6 separate regions of the Homo sapiens genome follow, and regions 1, 2, 3, 4 and 6 are each reported to be linked to region 5. The links are microRNA targets in miRTarBase. Many come from high-throughput screens and were not tested one by one. Region 5 holds a microRNA gene; each other region holds the end of a gene's coding sequence.
The links. The annotated mature microRNA hsa-miR-6821-3p reads UGACCUCUCCGCUCCGCACAG and lies in region 5 at 2,936-2,956, shown strand. An mRNA with a match to its seed (bases 2 to 7 or 8) in the 3' UTR can be bound and repressed. Matches are read on the target gene's strand: a 7mer-m8 pairs with bases 2 to 8, a 7mer-A1 pairs with bases 2 to 7 and ends in A, and an 8mer does both.

Region 1: miRTarBase lists AOPEP as a target of hsa-miR-6821-3p. The part of its 3' UTR that is shown has no 7-base or 8-base seed match.
Region 2: the mRNA of TLR6 is a reported target of hsa-miR-6821-3p. Seed matches in the 3' UTR shown: 8mer at 2,312-2,319 and 7mer-A1 at 2,930-2,936.
Region 3: miRTarBase lists BORCS5 as a target of hsa-miR-6821-3p. Seed matches in the 3' UTR shown: 7mer-A1 at 3,803-3,809.
Region 4: miRTarBase lists FFAR4 as a target of hsa-miR-6821-3p. Seed matches in the 3' UTR shown: 7mer-A1 at 725-731.
Region 6: miRTarBase lists CD96 as a target of hsa-miR-6821-3p. Seed matches in the 3' UTR shown: 7mer-A1 at 2,521-2,527.

What each region holds. Positions count from the first base shown.
Region 1 is chr9:95,081,985-95,086,088 of GRCh38, forward strand. It overlaps AOPEP (aminopeptidase O (putative)), which reads left to right. Exons shown (of 17, transcript NM_001193329.3): 16 at 591-735. The coding sequence ends at 731. It overlaps MIR23B (microRNA 23b), which reads left to right and starts at 3,224; the gene lies at 3,224-3,320. MIR27B (microRNA 27b) reads left to right here and starts at 3,461; the gene lies at 3,461-3,557. It overlaps MIR3074 (microRNA 3074), which reads right to left; the gene lies at 4,030-4,104. It also overlaps MIR24-1.
Region 2 is chr4:38,823,876-38,827,959 of GRCh38, reverse strand. TLR6 (toll like receptor 6) reads left to right here. Exons shown (of 2, transcript NM_006068.5): 2 at 1-4,084. The coding sequence ends at 877. Among named protein-coding and RNA genes, the nearest start is that of TLR1, 21 kb to the right of the region's middle. RefSeq lists an enhancer at 4,054-4,084.
Region 3 is chr12:12,465,335-12,469,334 of GRCh38, forward strand. It overlaps BORCS5 (BLOC-1 related complex subunit 5), which reads left to right. Exons shown (of 4, transcript NM_058169.6): 4 at 212-4,000. The coding sequence ends at 442. Among named protein-coding and RNA genes, the nearest start is that of DUSP16, 96 kb to the right of the region's middle.
Region 4 is chr10:93,587,146-93,591,249 of GRCh38, forward strand. It overlaps FFAR4 (free fatty acid receptor 4), which reads left to right. Exons shown (of 3, transcript NM_001195755.2): 3 at 75-2,927. The coding sequence ends at 464. Among named protein-coding and RNA genes, the nearest start is that of RBP4, 12 kb to the right of the region's middle.
Region 5 is chr22:49,959,984-49,964,087 of GRCh38, forward strand. MIR6821 (microRNA 6821) reads left to right here and starts at 2,883; the gene lies at 2,883-2,956. It overlaps PIM3 (Pim-3 proto-oncogene, serine/threonine kinase), which reads left to right and starts at 789. Exons shown (of 6, transcript NM_001001852.4): 1 at 789-1,049; 2 at 1,142-1,251; 3 at 1,335-1,385; 4 at 1,459-1,828; 5 at 2,706-2,882; 6 at 2,957-4,089. The coding sequence starts at 965. The coding sequence ends at 3,144. RefSeq lists silencers at 1-241, 282-921, 972-1,121, 1,262-1,311, 1,952-2,001 and 1 more.
Region 6 is chr3:111,649,145-111,653,248 of GRCh38, forward strand. CD96 (CD96 molecule) reads left to right here. Exons shown (of 14, transcript NM_005816.5): 14 at 554-3,228. The coding sequence ends at 662. Among named protein-coding and RNA genes, the nearest start is that of PLCXD2, 23 kb to the right of the region's middle.

The DNA.
Region 1 (4,104 bases), not on the chromosome of region 5:
TTTGCGGCATTGTTCCCAAGCAGCAGAGCCGGTGCGGGCTACGGTGCAGGGCTGTGGAGGAAAGGGCGCAGGCGGGGTGGGCGTCTCTGCGGGCATCGTGATGTGTCTCTGCCGCGGCTGCTGCCTGCTGTGCTCTTTGCTTCCCTGGCAGGTGAAGGACTTCCCGGATGAGCTCAGACCAGCTACTCCTAGGGACACACTTTGCGGGGCAGGAGTCCCGTGTCTGTAATGCCACACAGGCTCTCCGCGTGGTAATTCTGGGAACCATCTCTGTCTGTTCAGAGCGTTCCTGACACGGCCATCATGGTGGGAATGCCTGCTCATCGTTCTGTCACCAGTGAAATCGTCAGAGTCTGTGTAGAGAATTGGGAGCTGAGGATTCCTTGGGGTTTTGAGTACAAGGAGGAGACAGGGATTGCAGACTGCAGCTTCCAAAAGCACAGTCAGCCCACGGCCTCTGTCTTCTCTGGGGTCTTTGCAATTTCTAGACCAGCAAGTGTGTGTGGAACAAGCACAGACTGAGCTCATGTGTGCGTGTGTGTGGGTACCCACACCTTCGCCTGATGCCCTTTGGCCTCTGTGCCCTGCAGGCCATGGGTGTGTACCTCTACGGGGAGCTGATGGTGAGTGAGGACGCCAGACAGCAGCAGCTCGCCCGTAGGTGCTTCGAGCGGACCAAGGAGCAGATGGATAGGTCCTCAGCCCAGGTGGTGGCCGAAATGTTATTTTAACGAGGTGATTCTCTCCCTTTCCTTTCTGTCATTTAGTTCTAACCAGATACTCCTTTTAGGAGCCAACTAAATCAGTAAGCCGAATAGTTAGCCAAGACTACCCGCAGCATCAATAGTCGGCTCCCTGGCCCAGGGCCTGGAGAGTAACTGGCCAAGTGGGTGCTGGGCTGGTATGGGAGCCCCGGGTCCCTGGAGCACCTTGCCTGGCTGTGGCAGTCACCGGGAAGCAGAGGCTGTCCACCTGGAGGCACAGCGGCACTCCTTGGCACTATTTTGGCCACTTCAGGTTTTATAATCTGTTGAAACAAAAATTGTGGGGGAACATCTTGAGTAGGTTTAGAGATGGAATGGGAAGCCTGGCAGAAGCGCTGGTCCAGTCTTCAGGGTCACGGCTGATACAGGAGTTTAAGCGGCCGTGTGACTCCAAAGCCTAGCTTCTGCAAGCAGATGTTTTCTTCTAGCCATGTGTGAATTGGAGGTTCCTTGGGCTGTCCACGCCTGGTCATCGGCTGGCAGGAGGCTCTCCAGGCACACGCAGCACACACAGCACATGCACCACACGTAGCACACACACTGCATGCAGCACACACACACCAGAGGACGCACCACACAGAGCACGCACAGCACACACCACACAGCGCACGCACCACACAGAGCACACGCGGCACACACAGCACACACAGCGCACGCACCACGCAGAGCACACACGGCACATGCAGCATACACACCAAACAGCGCACGCACCACACAGAGCACACGCGGCACACGCAGCACACACACCACACAGAGCACCTGGAGCACCCACAGCACACACACCACGCAGAGTACACGCGGCACACACACCACACACAGCGCATGCACAACACAGAGCACACACAGCACATGCACCACACGTAGCGCGCACACTGCATGCAGCACACACACCACACACAGCGCGTGCACCACACAGAGCACCTGCGGCACACACAGCACACACCGCACGCACCACACAGAGCACATGTGGCACACACAGTGCACGCACCACACAGCACCCGCGGCGCACACAGCACACGTGGCATATGGCCTCCATGACCCTGTGTCTTGAGGGCAGGTCCTACTTTTTGCTTTGTTGTGTTGGAGCGGAATTTCTCCCCTGGCTTCTATTGGAGTCCTAGATTATTTAAATCACTTCCTCTGTTAATTGTGCCTGGAATTAACCTGTTAGATTTACTTCCTAGCAGTTAGTTGCTCAGTATGGGTTTCTACACTATTAAAGCAACCTAGCGGTAGTACACAAGGTTTTGTTAGGATAGCTGTGAGATTTTTTTTCTCTAACAATCATCATTATTTCTGTGTCTGCTCCGTTTTTCTTCAGTGTTTTATATGATATTAATAGGGGATGTCTAATTTTGTATCTTTAAAAAAACTTTATCAAATCTGAAGCATTTTTCGTGTTATAGCTTCTCTATAATTTTTCATGGATATTGAATATTTGGTGTTGATATTCTTCACTCAGTTTTGAACATTGAGTTTTCTTCTAATGTTTTGTGCTTATGAAAACCATTTCTGTGTAACGTGTTTAAGTAGCTTATTTATCTGAAAGAACTCTAATAATGAAAAGAAATAAAAAGTTTTTCAGAAGCATGATCATATTCTTCCAGAAGAGTCAGGAACCATGTGTGCCAGGAAAGGGAAACGGGACTGAGCGTCTCGTAGCGAAACGCCTGCTGCAGACTTGACGCGGCTCCCCTCCAGGACGGGCTGGCGGCACACAGACTGTGCACTTACCTCACTGCCGGCCTCATAATAGTAATCAGTGTAAATGGTGTTTCTCTTTCGTTTTGTTATTTCGTGGCGTACGTGTTAAAGTGTGTGAAACTACAAGGCCAGCTAGTCCTTTCATCATTCCCTTTGGTGCAGGTTTTGGAGCAGCACCACAGGGCACACCCCTCGCCACTCTTTATGGGGAATTTTTGCCCAGGCAGGCAAAGGAGTCATCTTGGTCACAAGTCTCCCTTTTCCCCCTCCCCAGCATCTTCGATCCTGTCCCCACCCCTCCAGATGCATCCAGGGGTTGCAAGCCTGCCCCCCAACCAGTCCCCGTGAGGAACAGTGGCCGGGATTGTCCCAGGGCCCCTTCCAGCAGGGGGACCTCCTGACTTGAGAGTCCCCAAAGCCTTCCCAGGGCAGCTAGAATCTGCCTGGAGAGAAGGGATCTTGTCCCCAAGGGTTAGAGGCAGTAAACTAATAGCAAGGACAGCTGCCTTTAGCAATTGTGTGTGTCGCATGGCCGGTCCCTGCATTTTTCTTCAGTTCCAAAGCTGCACTGGCATTTTTATGGTCATCTCTGGAGTCCCTTTGATTCAAGAAATTATACCTCTAGGATGCCAACTAAACGAACAACAAACAGAAACTCCACCTGTTTGCTAGCATAACAGGCGTGAAGGCGGCAGTGTCGCCGGCGTCCTTCCGCGGAAGCCCAGTGTGTGCAGACAGCACGGGGTGGCGCTGCTCTCAGGTGCTCTGGCTGCTTGGGTTCCTGGCATGCTGATTTGTGACTTAAGATTAAAATCACATTGCCAGGGATTACCACGCAACCACGACCTTGGCTGCTCCTCCAGAAACCGTGGTCGCGCTCACTGCAGATTGGAGAACAGGTGCATCTCGTAGCTCTTCTTTGGAAACAAAAGAAGCCACCAGCTGAGGAAGATGCTCACCGGTCACCGTCCCTTTATTTATGCCCAGCGATGACCTCTCTAACAAGGTGCAGAGCTTAGCTGATTGGTGAACAGTGATTGGTTTCCGCTTTGTTCACAGTGGCTAAGTTCTGCACCTGAAGAGAAGGTGAGATGGGGACAGTTAAGTTGGAGCCGCTGGGGCAGAGGCCGTTGCTGACGGGCCGGCCGCTGCTGCACAGTCAGCTTGGGTGCGGAGCGCGATCCTGGAGGATGAGAGACCACTTGACCCCAAGGATGCACTGTCTCCTGCTGGGAATGCTAGCCATGTACTGAGTCCTTAAGTCTGTCCACAGAAACATGCACTAATCGGACATCTGTCTGAAAGGTCAAATGTATTGAAAGTTGCAAAAATTCTTCTTACAAAAAACTAAAACCAAATGCATCACCTAAGTCGTGTGAAATCATGTGGTAGCTCATGGCTGTGAGCGGGGCGGGGCGGGGCTTTCGGAGGAGCTCCTGTTGTTCTGGGCGCGGTGAACTCTCTCTTGTATTTGCAGTCCAGGCCTTCGCGTCTCCTGCGCCAGCAGACGGTGCCCACGGAGCTCCCAGCTGAGGCGCTGCTTCTCCGGGCTGTCGATTGGACCCGCCCTCCGGTGCCTACTGAGCTGATATCAGTTCTCATTTTACACACTGGCTCAGTTCAGCAGGAACAGGAG
Region 2 (4,084 bases), not on the chromosome of region 5:
TTCAGTTTCCCACCCATCGGCTGATTTCTTCCAGAGCTGCCAGAAGATGAGGTCAATAAAAGCAGGGGACAATCCATTCCAATGTACCTGTGAGCTAAGAGAATTTGTCAAAAATATAGACCAAGTATCAAGTGAAGTGTTAGAGGGCTGGCCTGATTCTTATAAGTGTGACTACCCAGAAAGTTATAGAGGAAGCCCACTAAAGGACTTTCACATGTCTGAATTATCCTGCAACATAACTCTGCTGATCGTCACCATCGGTGCCACCATGCTGGTGTTGGCTGTGACTGTGACCTCCCTCTGCATCTACTTGGATCTGCCCTGGTATCTCAGGATGGTGTGCCAGTGGACCCAGACTCGGCGCAGGGCCAGGAACATACCCTTAGAAGAACTCCAAAGAAACCTCCAGTTTCATGCTTTTATTTCATATAGTGAACATGATTCTGCCTGGGTGAAAAGTGAATTGGTACCTTACCTAGAAAAAGAAGATATACAGATTTGTCTTCATGAGAGAAACTTTGTCCCTGGCAAGAGCATTGTGGAAAATATCATCAACTGCATTGAGAAGAGTTACAAGTCCATCTTTGTTTTGTCTCCCAACTTTGTCCAGAGTGAGTGGTGCCATTACGAACTCTATTTTGCCCATCACAATCTCTTTCATGAAGGATCTAATAACTTAATCCTCATCTTACTGGAACCCATTCCACAGAACAGCATTCCCAACAAGTACCACAAGCTGAAGGCTCTCATGACGCAGCGGACTTATTTGCAGTGGCCCAAGGAGAAAAGCAAACGTGGGCTCTTTTGGGCTAACATTAGAGCCGCTTTTAATATGAAATTAACACTAGTCACTGAAAACAATGATGTGAAATCTTAAAAAAATTTAGGAAATTCAACTTAAGAAACCATTATTTACTTGGATGATGGTGAATAGTACAGTCGTAAGTAACTGTCTGGAGGTGCCTCCATTATCCTCATGCCTTCAGGAAAGACTTAACAAAAACAATGTTTCATCTGGGGAACTGAGCTAGGCGGTGAGGTTAGCCTGCCAGTTAGAGACAGCCCAGTCTCTTCTGGTTTAATCATTATGTTTCAAATTGAAACAGTCTCTTTTGAGTAAATGCTCAGTTTTTCAGCTCCTCTCCACTCTGCTTTCCCAAATGGATTCTGTTGTGAGCAAGAGTTTATATGGCTTCATGGCAGCAAGGGAACAGTCAACTTCAGCATCATATGCACCAGTCCTCGGAGTGCCCTGTGAATCATATTGGTCTTTGGGTCAGTGTCATCATTCTCTTCAAGTCTGGGGCTTGGGGAAAAAATTAGATCAGCTACGGCATATAAAAAAGTCTTTTGTTTCACATATGTGTAATAGCTTATTTAATTTTTTATCCTGCTACACAAATATGTAATTAACCAATGAGGACTCATGACTTGATAGTGTATGTATGTAAAGGGATATATGGACTTAATCATAAGCTGTTGAGGTGAAAGACGTGGATCCACCTGCTTTCCAAGAAAACTCGGCCAAATTTATTTGCAGCTGGATATTGAATGGGACTTTTCTGGTTGTCTTAGAATTCTGGCTAAAGGCTCAAAGCTGACGAAAGACAGTAACTGCACCAACATGATACTAGACACAGCCAGTCTGGACTTATCAAAAGAGCAGAAAGAGACCAATGACTCCCAGTCCGTATTATCCATCTCTAGAAGACTAGAGTCAAAAGCGTGATTAAAGAGTCATTAAGCGGAGGTTCTAGGCCATAGGGAGATTGCTTTGAATTTCTTGCAGACAAGTGTGAGGGACTCAGCATGGTAGAAGGTAGCCTGGCATCCCACTCCAAGACTGAAAGCTTGCAGAGTAACAGGAGCACACAGGTTCAGTGCAGCAGATGTGGTGTGGCTTGAGAATTCTTGGAAGAGCTTGATGAGTGTTTGCTGGAGTCCGAGGGTGGGCACTGGGAACACAGAGACTGGTAAATAGTGTTTGGCAAATACAAGTGCTTGATGAATATTTGTTGAATGAATAGATGAGTTCTTCCCCCCTGGGGAATTCAGGAGGTGAAAGGTTGGCTTGAGCACCCAAAATGGCAGGATGAGAGAAGAGAAGCACTGATAGCAACCTGCCCTCCCATTATTGACATGGTAAAAGGATGTGAATTTCTTCACATGGCTTTGACTATGGAAGAGTAGCTGGGCTTGCATTGTCATGACGGGATATCAGCCAACAGGGTAGCCTGTTGTGCAAAGAAACTATAGCAGTAAGAGGACACGGGGTTAGGCAGAAGAGGGGTTTGGGGTGGAGGTTGCTGCAAGAGGTCAGCCAGATAATGTGGCCCTGCATCATGGAACTGTGCAATGTGGGGTACACTCAAGGCCCTCCAATAACTCACAGATGTGCCCTATGAAAAAGCCAGCATTTGGACTCTGCCATAGCAGCTGGCAGGATCATGCTGGCCTGTCTGCCTTATTCAATAGTTAACTACAGGAAGATCTGCTCCTCTTTGTGTAATACCCTCTTCCCTTGCAATGGCATAGGGACATCTAGAATATAGAGAAGACAGAGACAATGGAGGAAGAGTAAAGAAACTGACTATATGCCTTCGTCATTTCACTGCAAGGAAGGCCAAGCAGATTTTTGAATGAGGTGTGAGATTGCTGTTAAATTGGACTGGCCTGGACATTTTAATCCCTTAAATAGAGGTGCAATGACTAAAGTGAGATTTGTCACTAAAATTTATGGTATCTGCCCAAGATTCAGGAGTGATGATGGGAGGAGATCCAACAGAACTTTGTTGTAAGGCAATGGTTAGAGAAAAATGAAGCCCTCGCTTTCTGGACTTAGTTCATTCAATAAACCAGTTTCGGCCAGGCACGTTGGCTCACATCTATAATCCCAGTACTGTGGGAGGCTGAGGCAGGTGGATCACTTGAGGTCAGGAGTTCGAGACCAGCCTGGCCAACATGGTGAAACCCTGTCTGTACTAAAAATACAAAAATTAGCCGGGTGTGGTGGTGTGCACCTGTAGTCCCAGCTACTCGGGAGGCTGAGGCAGGAAAATCACTTGAACCTGGGAGACAGAGGCTGTAGTGAGCTGAGACAGCGCTACTGTACTCCCCGCTGGGCAACAGAGTGAGACTCCATCTCAAAAAAGTTAAAAGAAAAAAAATCTGGTTTCATAATAGCTGTAACGAAATAAGCCTTAATGATATTTTATTAGCATCATCTTCTGTCTGCATTAGCCCTTCCTTGCTCTTCAGGAGAACAACATTTGTTTTCCTCCCTAGGCTCTATCCCAAACGGCACATTCTTCCACAACCCCTGTTGAACAGATTTTTTAAACTGTTGCCTAATCTAAAAACAATAAAAACAACAAACAACCACAGTAACAACAACGACAAAAAAAACTGCCACAGATTCTAAATAATCAGATCTTTTTAAATGGTATCAATGTTTCCCACAAAATATTGTTGACATTGAAAATATAGAATTTTAGCATTAATTTTGTTAAACCTACATCCCCTCGGCAGAGGGGCCTCCCTGCATCCCAGTGGAAAGTAGGTTCCTCACAGTCCTCTCCGTCACATTCTTCCCATTTCTTTTCTTCACAGAACACATCACTGTCTAAAATTATCTTGTTTGCTTAGTTGCTTACTCATCTTCTTCTTCTCTCCTCTGAAGTCTAAGCTCCAGGAAAAAGGGAGACTTCTCCACCTGTTCCCTGCCTCTCCCCAGTGCCGAGGGGACACTGTGCACCCCATTGTAGATGCGCAGTAAAAACTCGTGGGATGAGCAAATGACTCTGAAACGGTCCCATGCGGGAAATGTCCATGAAGTCCTGGATTTTATCTAAAAAGCCCAGGCAGGGGGGGGCGGGGGCGGCGGGGCTACAGTTCCACGCTGAGCTGCCTCCTGGCCGCTCGTCCCCGCCGCAGTGCCTGGGCGGCCCGGGCGCCCGACCTTGGCCGTGGACACCTTCGCGGTGGGTGCTGCTCCTCCCCATCTGCCACTGGAAGATGCTGGGGCGACCCGGCTCCAGGTTTAGCAGGACACTGAGAAAAGGGAATGGCTGCCTTTCGGAGGCTG
Region 3 (4,000 bases), not on the chromosome of region 5:
GTCCCCTCTCAGTTCTCTTCTAAAGGTGGTTCTGGCACAACAGTTGATAAAGCTGTGTCCCTGAAGGGCTTTTTAGCCCTGGGTGCTTCCTGTAAAACTTGTCAGCTTCCACTGGATCTGCGGGACTGTGTCCCTCACAGGCTGGACACCCGGCCCTGCGGAGAGGACTTGATTAAACAAGGTATAATGTACTTCTCTTTCCCATCCACAGATGGATCTGTCTGTAGAAACTCTGTTCAGCTTCATGCAGGAGCGCCAGAAAAGATACGCCAAGTATGCCGAGCAGATCCAGAAAGTGAACGAGATGTCCGCCATCCTCCGCCGCATACAGATGGGCATCGACCAGACTGTGCCCCTGCTGGACAGGCTCAACAGCATGCTGCCCGAGGGCGAGCGGCTGGAGCCCTTCAGCATGAAGCCCGACCGCGAGCTCAGGCTGTAGCTGCTGCCCGGCCTGCCTGGGGCTGGGAGCCCCAGACACCGACACCCTGAGGACGTGTGGAGCTAAGGTCATATCATCTGACCAGGTCTGGAGGCTGGCGGGAGGCTCCCTGAAAGTGGGTGCGAAGGAGTCCGGCTGGCATGAAAATCTGACTTTGCCCAGCTCTTTTCCTTGATGCAGTTTCCCGGTGTGGAAGGAACCTAACCAGTTCTCGGTGATAACTGAAGCTGGAACGTGTGAATTATTAGGAATTCTTTGAAGAACTCTGCATTGAGAATTATTTTTATTTAGTTTTTTTTTTTTTTTAATTGAGAGTATATAGTCCAGTCCAGGTACCGGAATAAAAATATGGAGACAAGGGGAAAATATTTTACGAAGCTCTGTGTTCTCAACGCCCTCATGAACTTTTCAGTAGGCTGTCTGGTTTATGTGTGGTCAACTTGAAAAACTAATTGAATCTAGGTCTCTGTATTGTTCCTGTTTCTACCCTGACTGTTTCCGTCACACCAAGCCCTTATCTGGGGCGCGTCTTCCTGCCCAGGTGGAACACTGGCATTTTGTTGACTGTCAGGTTAGGTGTCCCTTAGTCGTCATCAGAAGCTGAAGCCTTCCTTTCCACACCCTCATCAGATTCATCTCCACTGATAACCGGTTTCCTTGATGCAGACATAGTTTAGCTTTCTTTGACTGCAGAGATGTCTCATTCCACAGACATTTCTTGAACCCATTTGATGTGTCCAATATTGTGCCAGGGATACAAATATGGCCGTATAGCCTCAGGCCTTCATTTCTGAAAAGAAAAAAGCTCAAAAAGCTGCTGAATTTCTCTGGGAGTTTAGGAAAGGAAGTTATTTGAGTAACAACAAAAGTGCTTAGTGTCGTACTTTACACATCATAGGTGTTCTAATGGAAGCAAGGACTGGAGAAGCAAAGAGTGGAATGTGAGGAGCAGACCTAGGCAGACACCTTGAGACTAAAAGTCAGAGCTGAAGGGAGTCGCTGGGGCCAGGACGGCATGCAGGCCTGTACCCTGTTCCCTAAGTTCCTGCAAGCGTCGGGAGGTGTGTTTTCAGATACCAGAAAGAGCCTTCAGTAGATTCACAAGATTAAAATTGATGCGCTTAATTTAATGTATCTTGGCTAAACTTGATCTGATTCTAATCTTGGTTTGAGACAGGGTCTTGTGCTGTTGCTCAGGCTGGAGTGCAGTGGCGCAATCATAGCACACTGACTCCTCAAACTCCCGGGCTCCGGGGATCCTCACGCCTCAGACTCCTGAGTAGCTGGGATTACAGGTGTGTGCCACCAAATCCAGCTAATTAAAAAAAATTAATTAATTTTACATTTTCAAATTCAAAAGAATAATACAATGAATATTCATATTTCTTTCACCTAGATTGACAAAAAGTGGTATATTTAAGACATCACCATCATTGTCTTTCTTCTGGAGTATACAGAACCTGGTTCTGAACACAGGGATATGTTTGTAGCTTCGAGGAATGAAGGGCTGTTTACAGAGCTACAAAAATAGCTTAGGTGCCATTATCCTCACTGCACTTAATACAGGTGACACATGAAAGCACAGAGTGGGTGGCAGTTCAAGCCTGCGAGGGCCGAGCCTTTCCACTGCTGCAGCTGTTAGTGGCTGGCACAGGGCAGGATGGCAGACCTAGTGCAGCACAAACAAACCACGCAGTCAGCCAGCTCTCCAGCCAACTGTGTCTACTTCTAAAGTAGAAGTTAGACAAAACATGGGGTTCACTTAGACTGGGGTCCTGAGTAGGTGATAGGCTACTTATTACTGGGTGGAAGCGGAGAAGTATGGCAGAAGAACAATAGGCAAATTCAATACTCCCGGAAAGAATTCTAGTTAGTTTAATATTTTGATGGCATGTTGTGGTTTCTGCAGTGTCGTGAACTTGGCTAAACTGAACTGTGTTCCCAGAATTCCCTTCCTTGTTTGTTTCTCTGGTGAGGGTTGGCCACGAGAGAGATTTGCATGAGGTTTGGAAGTGGAAGTAGAGCAACAGCCATGTGTATTCACTGGAAGTGGATGTAGGTCAGGCCCTGTTCCATCACGTGCACGTTACCATGGATCTCCTGCACTTGTGGTGTGGGCAGCCGCTGGGCCCACGGCTCCTCCCACTCCCGCAGAACTCTGCCTTTGGCTTTTCCAGACCCTGGGCCGGGTATGAGAACCAGCTTCTTGGTCTGCAGCCACAAGGATGAAGGTTTGGGGATGAGAGACCAGCACGGGCTCTGATGAGAGACAGGTGCAGGTCCCAGCTTGTGGCTTGCAGGTCTCAGTCGTACTTGCTCTCCCTCACCATCCTTTCCAACCGCCTGGCCTGTGGTCTGGTGAAGAAGAAACAGCCGAACCGAGACTTTCACCAGCCCCTCTAATTGCTCAAACCGCTTTCACAATCCTCTCTTTCTACATCATTCCTAGTGGTTCTTTTCTGATGGAACCTCTGACTGGTAACATGGCATTACCAGTCCTTTCCCTCTCATGTTTTGCTATTTCCTGATGGAACCTGGGAGTCTGAGTGATTTGTATTTCAAGAAGCAGTTATGCTGGATCTCTTTGTTGGTTAATACCCCATGACCTATCTGGCCGTTATGGGATATTTCAGGGATAGGAGTTGTGAAAGAGCCCTTGGCTGGACGTTTCTAGCCTTAATCTTTGGCAAGCCATTTCATTTCCCTGAGCCTCAGTTTCCGCCTTCCTACAGCGTGAGCAGGTCTGGGTGGGCTCTCAAGCCCCTTTCAGCTCTAAGATTCCAAGTCTGTGATTCCGATACATCTTGACTACAATGAGCGTGTTTACCTTTTGTCTCTGAGCAGTGGCCCTGGGTCTTGGTAGTGACTAAATTCCGAGCTCCCAAGGTGCAGCTGCTTTTCTTCCTTTTAATTATAAATTAGCTGTTCATTGGCTGCTTCTTTCTAGAGCCTGTTTTGCTTATCTTGCAATCTGTTCATTTCTGTTGATGAACACAGTCAAATAGGCCTCTATGTGCAGTCTCCTGGTTTCCCTGGTCAAAGTGGAAGGTTGGTAGAAACTGGCCTTCATGTCTTTGTTTCCCTCAAAGTTTTATTCTTAGTAACGCTATATATGGTTTTATAGACCACACATATATAGTTTCCTGTGTCTTAGATGATAACATCCTTAAAATATGAAATATATTTTGAACCTAGATACCTACCCAGTATTCTCTGCACAGAGTAAACATTTCATTAAATGAGTTTCAAGGACTCCATACCCTGATATAGGAGTACATTCAAGAAATGAGTTTAGGCCGGGCGCGGTGGCTCACACCTGTAATCCCAGCACTTTGGGAGGCCGAGACGAGTGGATCACCTGAGGTCAGGAGTTCCAGACCAGCCTGACCAACATGGTGAAACCCCATCTCTACTAAAAAAAATACAGAAATTACCCGGGCATGGTGGCTGGTGCCTGTAATCCCCGCTACTTGGGAGGCCAAGGTGGGAGAATCGCTTGAACCTGGGAGGCGGAGGTTGCAGTGAGCCAAGTTCGTGCCATTGCACTCTGGCCTGGGT
Region 4 (4,104 bases), not on the chromosome of region 5:
CTTGGGCCCCTAACTCAAAATCCCCAACAACCCTCGGTCACCTGTGGCTCCAGTCCTGTTTTGGTTTTCCACAGATCACAAAGGCATCAAGGAAGAGGCTCACGGTAAGCCTGGCCTACTCGGAGAGCCACCAGATCCGCGTGTCCCAGCAGGACTTCCGGCTCTTCCGCACCCTCTTCCTCCTCATGGTCTCCTTCTTCATCATGTGGAGCCCCATCATCATCACCATCCTCCTCATCCTGATCCAGAACTTCAAGCAAGACCTGGTCATCTGGCCGTCCCTCTTCTTCTGGGTGGTGGCCTTCACATTTGCTAATTCAGCCCTAAACCCCATCCTCTACAACATGACACTGTGCAGGAATGAGTGGAAGAAAATTTTTTGCTGCTTCTGGTTCCCAGAAAAGGGAGCCATTTTAACAGACACATCTGTCAAAAGAAATGACTTGTCGATTATTTCTGGCTAATTTTTCTTTATAGCCGAGTTTCTCACACCTGGCGAGCTGTGGCATGCTTTTAAACAGAGTTCATTTCCAGTACCCTCCATCAGTGCACCCTGCTTTAAGAAAATGAACCTATGCAAATAGACATCCACAGCGTCGGTAAATTAAGGGGTGATCACCAAGTTTCATAATATTTTCCCTTTATAAAAGGATTTGTTGGCCAGGTGCAGTGGTTCATGCCTGTAATCCCAGCAGTTTGGGAGGCTGAGGTGGGTGGATCACCTGAGGTCAGGAGTTCGAGACCAACCTGACCAACATGGTGAGACCCCCGTCTCTACTAAAAATAAAAAAAAAAATTAGCTGGGAGTGGTGGTGGGCACCTGTAATCCTAGCTACTTGGGAGGCTGAACCAGGAGAATCTCTTGAACCTGGGAGGCAGAGGTTGCAGTGAGCCGAGATCGTGCCATTGCACTCCAACCAGGGCAACAAGAGTGAAACTCCATCTTAAAAAAAAAAAAAAAAAGATTTGTTATGGGTTCCTTTTAAATGTGAACTTTTTTAGTGTGTTTGTAATATGATCAAATTTAATAAATATTTATTTATGACTGTTCAGCAATCACATCTCCTACATATAAAGCCACACCATAGTGGTTTCTGAAGTGAGTCTTAGAACCGATTCAGGACGCAGATTTCTCCTCTGAAGGGTCACAGCCACCCTGTGCCCTACCTTGGACTCGCAAGGGTTTAGGATCATTCGTTGATGTCAAGAGCAATTGAAGAATTTCTAAGGAACAGTTAAAGATGACTTACTTTTTTTTTTTTTTCATTTATAAAAATGCTATGGACCCTTTTAAGAGAATCGGCATCATGAAATGAGAGAGAAAGTAGGATGGCTCTGAAATGTTTGAGAGTGAGTTCAGGAGTGGTTTACTCCTGACGCATCCAGCAGAGATGCCTCTTAAGCACCAGCCATGGCAGACAGTGTCCTTTGTGCTAGGAATACAGTGGTGAACCAGACAGCCATGGCCCTCTCTCAGGGAACTTACCTTCGAGTCAGGGGCAGAAAAACTAAATAAAAGTCAATAAACTATATCTATATACAGATACCTATATATTTGAGATGAGGGTCTTGCTCCAATGCCCAGGCTGGAGTGCAACGGCACAATCACGGCTCCCTGAAGCCTCAAATGCCTTGGCTCAAGCAATCCTCCCGCCTCAGCCTCCCAAGTAGCTGGGATTACAGGCGTGAGCCGCCACGCCTGGCTACAAGTCAATAAATAGTATAGCATCACAGAGCGAATAAGCACTGTGAAGAAAATGGGACGGGGGCTATGGTAGTGATGGGAATTTAGATCAGATGGGGAGGGGCCTAAGGAGACCTTTCTGAGGAGTGACAAATTGGATCAAAAGGTAAGCGACAAGAAAGGGCCACCTGTGTGAATGGGGGAAGGGACACAGAAGAGATGTTAGTGCAAGGAGGCTGACACGCTTGAAGGGAGAGTGGCGTAAGCCGACTATTGATGGAGCCTCCTCTGCACTAGGCACTGCCTTTAATGCTGAGATGAGGGGTACCCGGCTGGGGCCTGTCAGTTGAGGCCAGAGAAATTGCAGGGTTAGATCACATAGGGCCTAGGAGTTTATTCTGTTCTCCAAGCCCCTGGAGGTTGGCAACTGGAGGCTGACGTGACCTGATGAATGTGTGCAAAGATTACCCTGGCTGCTGGGCAGGGAATAGACTCTGAGGAGCATGAGTGAAAATGGAGACCAGTTGGGCAGCTGCTGAAGTGTGACATGGGGATGGGACCTTGGAGGTGAGTGGCATTAGGGAGGGATTGTGAGAAATGACTTGTAAATATACCTTGGGAAGGTAAAACAAAGATGATTTATTGATGGGAAGGATGGAATTGATAGAATGTGAGGGAAAGGGAGAACTCAAGGGGAATACTCTGATTTTTTAGCCTGTCATTGGTTGGATGGTGAAGCAGGCAACAAAAATGGGGGGGCCTGGGCAAAGATTAGGGGGGGGGGAGCCAAGAGTTTCATTTGGAGCTCATCAGTTTGAAATCTCAGTGAGACTTCCAAATTGAATAGGCAGTTGGATGCAGAGATGTGGAGCTTGGGCCTGGAGATGCACATTGTTTGGAGATATAAATGGTGTTTATAGACCTATGGTTTTATAATACATCCCTTGGAGAGATAGAGAGAAACCAGAGCCAAAGACCGAACCCAGGGTCACTCCACCACTTGGAGGCTGGGCCAGTGGCTGGAATGCACAGCAGCACGGGGCCTGGTGTATAGTAGGTGTTCAACAAATCTTTGTTGCTGAGGAAATCAGCACCAGCAGTAGTGACTGCTTATGCAGTTTCTGGAGCAGCTTGCTTCTGAAGTCAGATTCATGGATATCACAAGCTCGAAGACAAACGAACAGAGATGTTTTGCTCACTTTAGTTAATAGATTTGATCAATTAAACCTGTTTTTGGAAGTGATGTGTGGCTATCTTATTGAAGCGGCATTGCTGTCTGGGGTAAATAACCGGGGTTTGTCATCTTGCGCCAAGAGGATTAAGGACACGGACATATGTGGGTGGGTTAAGGAACAGAATGTTTAATAGGCAGAAGAAAGGAGAGAGGAGAGCAGCTCTCTCTCTCGTGAGACAGAGGCATCTGAAAAGGGAAAAGTGGTGGACCACAGCGTATTTTATAGGCAGGCTTGAGGAGGTGGTGTCTGATTTACATAGGGCTCACAGATTGGTTTGACCAGGTGTGACGTTTACGTAGTGCACGAGAAAGGCTGGCCACCCCACCCAAATCTGATTATGCAAATGGACTTTCCACTTGGCCATCTTGTCTTCTCCTTACTGCACTCATAGCTGGCAAAAAGAGAAGACGGAGCCGCCATTTTGAACATGCTTAGTCTTAGGTAGTACATTCCAATGGACACAACTGCTGGCATTCACCCATGCAAGCTTCCAACTTGCTTGTCTATGTCTGCAGCACGATTTTACAGCTGCTTTTTGTTAGAAAAGGATTTAGGGGCTGCTTTTCATTAAAAGGAAAATCTTACCAAGGACTTCCATACCCTCACTATCTGCCCGAGTAATTTCTTTTTAACTCCTATATCATTATGGTTCTCTGAGGTTGTCAAACTGAAGCTGCGGAGCAAGGCTCTGACAGCCTGTGGTTCCGTGAGAGAGGAAGGCAAAGCTCTCCCATGCACATCACCTGTCTCCTCTGTCTTTGGTGGAGAACACTAGCATGGGGCCCCCGGGAGCCTCCCACGGTCCCTGGATATTCCAACACCCAGGCGGAGATCTGTGACCCTTTCCTCACTCCCAGTGCATTTCATAGACATCAGCCTGGCATCACCGGTTTCACAGCTCCCCAGAGCTCTAAGGGACATTGCCTAATTGAATCCTCACTGCAGCCCATCAGGCAAGGACTATTTTCCCTTATCTCCCAAGAAAAGAGTGAGGCTCAGATAAGCCTTGTAACCAGCCCCAAATCCACAGCTAATATATATCTGAAGCAGATTTGCACTTACACCAAGACCCTCTGGTACCAAAGCCTTGCTGCTTTTTTCAAGATGAGAAATGGAGGCCCCTGGGAACGCCTGGAAAACTGAGGCAAGTGGCCTTGCACCCATACACTAGGGTTCCCACGTGCT
Region 5 (4,104 bases):
TCGGGCGGGGCCACTCCAGGCACCGGCCAGCAGGGCAGAGGTACCAGGGAGGGCCCTCGGGCTGCGGGCGTGAGGTCAGAGCCCAGGGTGAGGAGGAAGCATCTCCAGCCAGGTGCGCTCTCGGCCCCCGCCGGGGCTGCGAGGCTGGGGGCGCTGCCGCTGCGAGGGCTTCCAGAGGAGCCGGCGCTACCTCCCCGCGCGCCCGGCCACGTGCGCGACGGGATGCGCAGACAGCCGGGGACGCAGACTGGCGGCGTGTGTCACCTCGAGGCCGCGGGACAAGCGCAGGTCGCCTCCCGCACTCCCACACCCCCAGGAACCCTGCTCGGGGCCGGCGGGTGACCTTCCTAGGCACTGCTGGGGGCGGAGCCAGGAAACGGCTCGCCCCGCCATTGGCTGGGGCGCCGGATTTCTTTAAAAACTCCGGCTTCCATTGGCTCGTGCAGTCCCTCCTCGTTCTGCCCGAGGCGCCACGGCCGCCACCCGCGCGGGCACTGCGCCTGCGCGGAGTGAGAGCGTGAGCGCGGAGAGCGGACCGACGCGACACGCCGTGCGCCTCCGCGGCTGCGCTACGAAAACGAGTCCCGGAGCGGCCCCGCGCCCGCCGCACCCGGCCCTCGCCCGCCCGAAGACAGGCGCCAAGCTGCCCCGCCGTCTCCCCAGCTAGCGCCCGGCCGCCGCCGCCTCGCGGGCCCCGGGCGGAAGGGGGCGGGGTCCCGATTCGCCCCGCCCCCGCGGAGGGATACGCGGCGCCGCGGCCCAAAACCCCCGGGCGAGGCGGCCGGGGCGGGTGAGGCGCTCCGCCTGCTGCGCGTCTACGCGGTCCCCGCGGGCCTTCCGGGCCCACTGCGCCGCGCGGACCGCCTCGGGCTCGGACGGCCGGTGTCCCCGGCGCGCCGCTCGCCCGGATCGGCCGCGGCTTCGGCGCCTGGGGCTCGGGGCTCCGGGGAGGCCGTCGCCCGCGATGCTGCTCTCCAAGTTCGGCTCCCTGGCGCACCTCTGCGGGCCCGGCGGCGTGGACCACCTCCCGGTGAAGATCCTGCAGCCAGGTACGCGCGGGGCCGGCGGGGCCGGGGCCGGGGCCAGGGCGGGGACCGGGGGCGCCCCGGGCCGCACCAACCCCGCCCGCGCCTCCCTGCAGCCAAGGCGGACAAGGAGAGCTTCGAGAAGGCGTACCAGGTGGGCGCCGTGCTGGGTAGCGGCGGCTTCGGCACGGTCTACGCGGGTAGCCGCATCGCCGACGGGCTCCCGGTGAGTCGGACCGCCGGGCGGGCCCGGGTTTCTCGCGCGCCTTGCGCCTCGCTTGGCCCGGCCTGACCCCCGCGTCTCCGCAGGTGGCTGTGAAGCACGTGGTGAAGGAGCGGGTGACCGAGTGGGGCAGCCTGGTAAGTTGGGGCACGGGCGGCGGCGGCGGCGGGGGGCGGGCGCGGGGCTTTTGCTGACCGCCGTGTCCCCCAGGGCGGCGCGACCGTGCCCCTGGAGGTGGTGCTGCTGCGCAAGGTGGGCGCGGCGGGCGGCGCGCGCGGCGTCATCCGCCTGCTGGACTGGTTCGAGCGGCCCGACGGCTTCCTGCTGGTGCTGGAGCGGCCCGAGCCGGCGCAGGACCTCTTCGACTTTATCACGGAGCGCGGCGCCCTGGACGAGCCGCTGGCGCGCCGCTTCTTCGCGCAGGTGCTGGCCGCCGTGCGCCACTGCCACAGCTGCGGGGTCGTGCACCGCGACATTAAGGACGAAAATCTGCTTGTGGACCTGCGCTCCGGAGAGCTCAAGCTCATCGACTTCGGTTCGGGTGCGCTGCTCAAGGACACGGTCTACACCGACTTCGACGGTGAGCGCGGGCGCGGGGCAGGGAACGTTCCGGGGGCCTTGCCGGCGGGTTAACGCCTGCAGGGGCGGCACATGGAGGGGCTGATGACTGTTGGGCGGCCGCGCGCCCTGGGTCTGCTCTCGTGGGGAGCAGAGGCCCACGCGCTACCCTGGGGAGGGCTGAGCGAGGGATCAAGAGCGGGATCGTGCTGGGTGGGGGCTAGGGGCGCGCTCAATATTGCTTCCTCCATCGCGTTGGGGGGTACGGGGCCTCTTGCCCCGGTGTGGGAGGCGCGTGACATCCTTCCGGCCCGAGAGACCCCCGGCTGGGGGCGGTAGCGGAGGAGTCTCCGTGCGTGACGCAGGGCGCAGCCGGGCTGGGTCTGCGCCGGGAGCCTGGAGGCCCCCGCGGCGCGGTTGGAGTGGCGGGGCCTCCCCTGCGTGGGGGCGGGAGCTGCGTGCGTGCGGAGCGCGGGGGCGCGGCGGCAGAAATCCCCGCATTGCGGAGCTTGGGGAAGCCGGGGCTCCCCGCCCGCCCCTCCCTCCTCCCTCCCTCTCTCCCCTCCCCCCGTTCCCGCAGGCAGGCGCGCCGGGCGGTAAGGGACCCGCGCTGTCCCCCCCCCACCCAGGTAGCCTCACAGCGCATCTGTTTGTTGTGAAAGCCGAGCTCTTACTCATGTGACCTGCTCCTCCCCCGCGGCCGGCGGAGGGGGACGGCCGGCCCCTCCCCCAGCCCCCCCATCGCCTGCCGGGGTTTTTCCAGGGTGATGACGAGCAGGATTTTGAGGCCTGGCTCTGCTTCCTGTTACTGAGGCCAGGGAGTTAACCAGCAGGGACCTCGCCGTCTGTTGAGCGGCTCTGCCTCTGTGGTGGGCGTGCTAAGCCCTGTGTCCCCTTAGGCACCCGAGTGTACAGCCCCCCGGAGTGGATCCGCTACCACCGCTACCACGGGCGCTCGGCCACCGTGTGGTCGCTGGGCGTGCTTCTCTACGATATGGTGTGTGGGGACATCCCCTTCGAGCAGGACGAGGAGATCCTCCGAGGCCGCCTGCTCTTCCGGAGGAGGGTCTCTCCAGGTGCGTGGTGGCTCGAGGCGGGGGTGGGGGCCTCGCCCTGCTTGGGCCCTCCCTGACCTCTCCGCTCCGCACAGAGTGCCAGCAGCTGATCCGGTGGTGCCTGTCCCTGCGGCCCTCAGAGCGGCCGTCGCTGGATCAGATTGCGGCCCATCCCTGGATGCTGGGGGCTGACGGGGGCGTCCCGGAGAGCTGTGACCTGCGGCTGTGCACCCTCGACCCTGATGACGTGGCCAGCACCACGTCCAGCAGCGAGAGCTTGTGAGGAGCTGCACCTGACTGGGAGCTAGGGGACCACCTGCCTTGGCCAGACCTGGGACGCCCCCAGACCCTGACTTTCTCCTGCGTGGGCCGTCTCCTCCTGCGGAAGCAGTGACCTCTGACCCCTGGTGACCTTCGCTTTGAGTGCCTTTTGAACGCTGGTCCCGCGGGACTTGGTTTTCTCAAGCTCTGTCTGTCCAAAGACGCTCCGGTCGAGGTCCCGCCTGCCCTGGGTGGATACTTGAACCCCAGACGCCCCTCTGTGCTGCTGTGTCCGGAGGCGGCCTTCCCATCTGCCTGCCCACCCGGAGCTCTTTCCGCCGGCGCAGGGTCCCAAGCCCACCTCCCGCCCTCAGTCCTGCGGTGTGCGTCTGGGCACGTCCTGCACACACAATGCAAGTCCTGGCCTCCGCGCCCGCCCGCCCACGCGAGCCGTACCCGCCGCCAACTCTGTTATTTATGGTGTGACCCCCTGGAGGTGCCCTCGGCCCACCGGGGCTATTTATTGTTTAATTTATTTGTTGAGGTTATTTCCTCTGAGCAGTCTGCCTCTCCCAAGCCCCAGGGGACAGTGGGGAGGCAGGGGAGGGGGTGGCTGTGGTCCAGGGACCCCAGGCCCTGATTCCTGTGCCTGGCGTCTGTCCCGGCCCCGCCTGTCAGAAGATGAACATGTATAGTGGCTAACTTAAGGGGAGTGGGTGACCCTGACACTTCCAGGCACTGTGCCCAGGGTTTGGGTTTTAAATTATTGACTTTGTACAGTCTGCTTGTGGGCTCTGAAAGCTGGGGTGGGGCCAGAGCCTGAGCGTTTAATTTATTCAGTACCTGTGTTTGTGTGAATGCGGTGTGTGCAGGCATCGCAGATGGGGGTTCTTTCAGTTCAAAAGTGAGATGTCTGGAGATCATATTTTTTTATACAGGTATTTCAATTAAAATGTTTTTGTACATAGTGGATAATCCTGTA
Region 6 (4,104 bases), not on the chromosome of region 5:
TCTTAAATCCTAGGATTTTAAGATTTAGTCTCTGGAGGAATATTTTAATCCACATAAAAGAAACATTTCTTCTATTAGGAGGCAGTTGTCATGGAGAGTATCAGTTCTGGTGAAAAGACTTGAATTGTTGGTCTGGTTCTCTTGAGCAAGTTGTTTAAAACCTCTGAGCCTCAGTTTTATCTGTAGAATGGTGATGCATTTCCTGCACACAAAGTAAATAATGTTATGATACATTTCCTGCACACAAAGTAAATAATGTTATGATAAAAATGCTCAGTTTTATCTGTAGATGGTGAGGCAATTTCTACATACAAAGTAAATAATGTTATGATAAAAATTCTTTGCAAACTACAAAATACCGTATAGATCATGAGGTTCAAATGTGACTAACAGGCACAGGGTTATGCCAGCAAAAATGCTGAAAGAACTGGGAGAGTATGTCTCTTTCTCATCAATCTGTGTTCTCCTTTAAAGAAACAACACATGTCTGTGTGTGTGTGTGCATAAGACTCCCTCAATTCTTAGCATTGAAAGACCAATATTTTGTTCCTAGAATGGAAAGACCTCCACCTTTCAAGCCACCACCACCTCCCATCAAGTACACTTGCATTCAAGAGCCCAACGAAAGTGATCTGCCTTATCATGAGATGGAGACCCTCTAGTCTCGTGAGACTTTGCCCCATGGCAGAACTCTGCTGGAATCCTATTGAGAAGGTAGACATTGTGCTTTATTAATATAGTCGCTCTTCAGCCATGCCTTTGCTGCAGCTGAAATGGAAGTCAGAAGTGAGTGACCTGTTTTCCCAGCAACTCACCCTCTTCCATCTCCAAACGCCTGAAGCTTAACCAAGAGTGAGAGGATATGTCATGTTCACACTCAATGCAATTCGTAGTGGTTTTCTTGCTTATGTAAGAAGTACATATTAGTCTGCCATCTTTAAAAAAAAATACAGTATTTTCATTTAAATTCTCTGATGGAGGGACAACAATGGTTTCAACTGTATGCCCATGCCTGATCCTCTTATTTGAACATCTATCAACATTGTAAACTCTTTGCCAAAATCCTGGGGCTTTGCTGCATTCCCTAAGATAATTACAGGAAAAAGAAAATGTAAAAGTGCTAACAAGGCTGCCAAGTAATGGAGAAGTATGGTTAGTCTTCATATTGAAATTCTGTTGCTTATTTTCATGGAAGGAAACAGAATACTTTGCACAGGAACCACATTTTCAATCCTCCTTCACTGTCTTCCTACCATGTTCAGCCCAGACTCCTGCCACATGGACCAGGATGAAGAGGGATCAAAGAGATAATTAGCCAAAAACCCAGTAGCCTAGAAGATACAAAACTCCACTGGCCTCTAAAATTATATTAGCCAAGAGTGGTTTCATTTGAGTGCCTTCGTGTGTATGTCCATCAAACTGGAACCAAACTGTTTTGTAAGTAAACAGGCAGCCTAAGCCCAACCCTACTTTCTAATTCCAGTTATTCTCTTTTTCATCTGGGGATTTACCTGTTCATTTAATCTGCCTGTTTTGATCTGTTTTGAAAAAGATAAAGAGCCTCAAATCAGACCAGCACTGATTAATTAACCCTGCTCCTACCAATCTTTTTTAAAGCAGTTGAAGCAGAATGTATAGGTGTCAGAGAAGAAACCTAGTCAGCCAGACGTGCTCTGTATTCAGCAATAGTTTGTGAATGAATAAATTACTAATCCTCCTTGTCGCTTGAAACCTTCCCACACTCCCTGCTCCAGGAGGGAAAAACAGATGTTGTTGACAGATAGAGTGATAGGCAAATTCTGTGTGGACTTTAGTCCCAAAAGGAAACTTTAGTTCACTTGCAGTATGCTTATCCTTGACTGCACATGAGAATGCCTTGTGCAGAGTTATTTGGAGATTATGTCTTTTTCTTAAACACCATGGCTGTCACACTTCAGTTCAATTAAATCAGAATGTCTGAGGAGTGAGACACAGGCATCAACACTCTCAAATGATTCACATGTTCAGCCAAAGTTGAGAACCATCGAGCCTGTGGAAGTTCTTTCTCATGGCTCAGAATCTTAGGTAGGTGCTTAACTCTTGTGGTGGCCAGCCTCCAAGATGAGCCCCAGTGTTCTTGCCTCCTACTATTCACATCTTTATGTGGTCCCCTCCAATGCTGAATACAGATGATTTGTGTAACCTGAGGCCAGGATTAAGGGGAGGCAATCAATGCACCTAGGGAAAAAATTTAAGGAGGTATTCACACTCAGGGTCATGCACTTGCACAATGTTGAGAATGAGTACCACTCTCACCATTGGTATAGCCAAAAAAGCTTGGAAGTGACCAAGGCTAGGTCACAAAATACACTGTGGCTTCTTCTTTGATCTCTCTTTGACCATACTGACACTGGGAAAAGCCCATTCCCATGCCATGAAGACACCAAGGCAGCCCTATTGAGAAATCTACCTGTCGTGGCCGGGCGCAGTGGCTCACGCCTGTAATCCCAGCACTTTGGGAGGCCGAGGTGGGTGGATCACGAGGTCAGGAGATCGAGACCATCCTGGCTAACACAGTGAAACCCCGTCTCTACTAAAAATACAAAAAATTAGCCGGGTGTGGTGTCGGGCACCTGTAGTCCCAGCTACTCAGGAGGCTGAGGCAGGAGAAGGGTGGGAACCCGGGAGGCAGAGCTTGCAGTGAGCCGAGATTGTGCCACTGCACACTCCAATCTGGGTGAAAGACCGAGACTCCGCCTCAAAAAAAAAAAAAAAAGAAAGAAAGAAAGAAAGAAAGAAATCTACCTGTCAAGGAACTAAGGTATTTTGCTAACAAGCACCAACTTGCCAGCCATGTAAGGGAGCCATCTTGGAAGCAGATCCTCCAGCCTCCAGTCAAGTCTTCAGATAATTGCAACTTCAGTTGATCTTTTGACCAAGACCTCAAGAGAGCCAGAACTACCCAGCTAAGCCTTTTACTAAATTTCTGAACTTCTAACACTATTAGATAATAAGTGCTTATTGTTTAACACCATTAATTTTGAGTATAATTTGTTACATAGCGACAGATAACTATACAGCTCAACAACTAGAAAAATAAACTGTTTACCTGCCTTAATTATTTATCTTTAGTTCCTTATTAGTTCTCAAGAAACAAATGCTAGCTTCATATGTATGGCTGTTGCTTTGCTTCATGTGTATGGCTATTTGTATTTAACAAGACTTAATCATCAGTAATTTGTATACAAAGCATTGTGGTTTTATTTTACTGTTTTACTATAATATATGAATACAAGCAGAAAGTGGGGGTAGGGAGTGGCAGAGTTAGGAGTAGAGAGTGGCAGAGTTGGAGGTATTTGGATTGTTTCACTAAAGGGAGAGACAGTTTTACAGTATAACATAAATTCATGTAATTTATCAATCTATCAGATGACAGGTGTCTCTCTGTGTTTTTATATTAGCTCTTCTTTGAAGTACACTCTTTTAGTATCGTAATTAAGTTCTGGTCAGCATTTGCACATTCATTACCACTTGAATAGAGTGAGCGGTTGCTTATCAATGGAGGGATCTTCAGTGAGTAGTTCAGAGGAACTTTTCACAAACCTGCAAATTAGAGGGGCTCCAGTTGCCTTTTAGTTAGTACTGTGAGCTTGACCACCCTTATTTGACTAAAATGACAGTTTCATTTGAGCCTTAAATTGTGTGCGAGTAAATTCATAGAGTCTGACTCAACCAGCAACTCCTGTCTCTGTTAGTGAATTTAGCTCTGTCTCATAGGAGAAATAGCAATACTAGATCCTAATCCCTAAAGTTTCATTTTCACTGAGAAAAAGCCATATGTACGCATGTTTGTCACTCATTTCCAAAGCACTATGTGTTAGTTAACATTGTTATTCATATGTTCGTTTCCTTACCCACCTGCACCAGGAGAACTCCTCAGCTTGATAACATGATTTGTTTTGCAATGGAATATCATGGGCACGACTAACCCAAGGCTTGAAAAGTACTTCTATGATTGGATTCACTCTCTTCTTTTCTACCATCACCATGAGAAGATCGTTTTCAGACTAGCCTACTGTGCCAAGAAGAAAAAGAAAGGCTCATGGAGCAGTACCACCCAAGGCT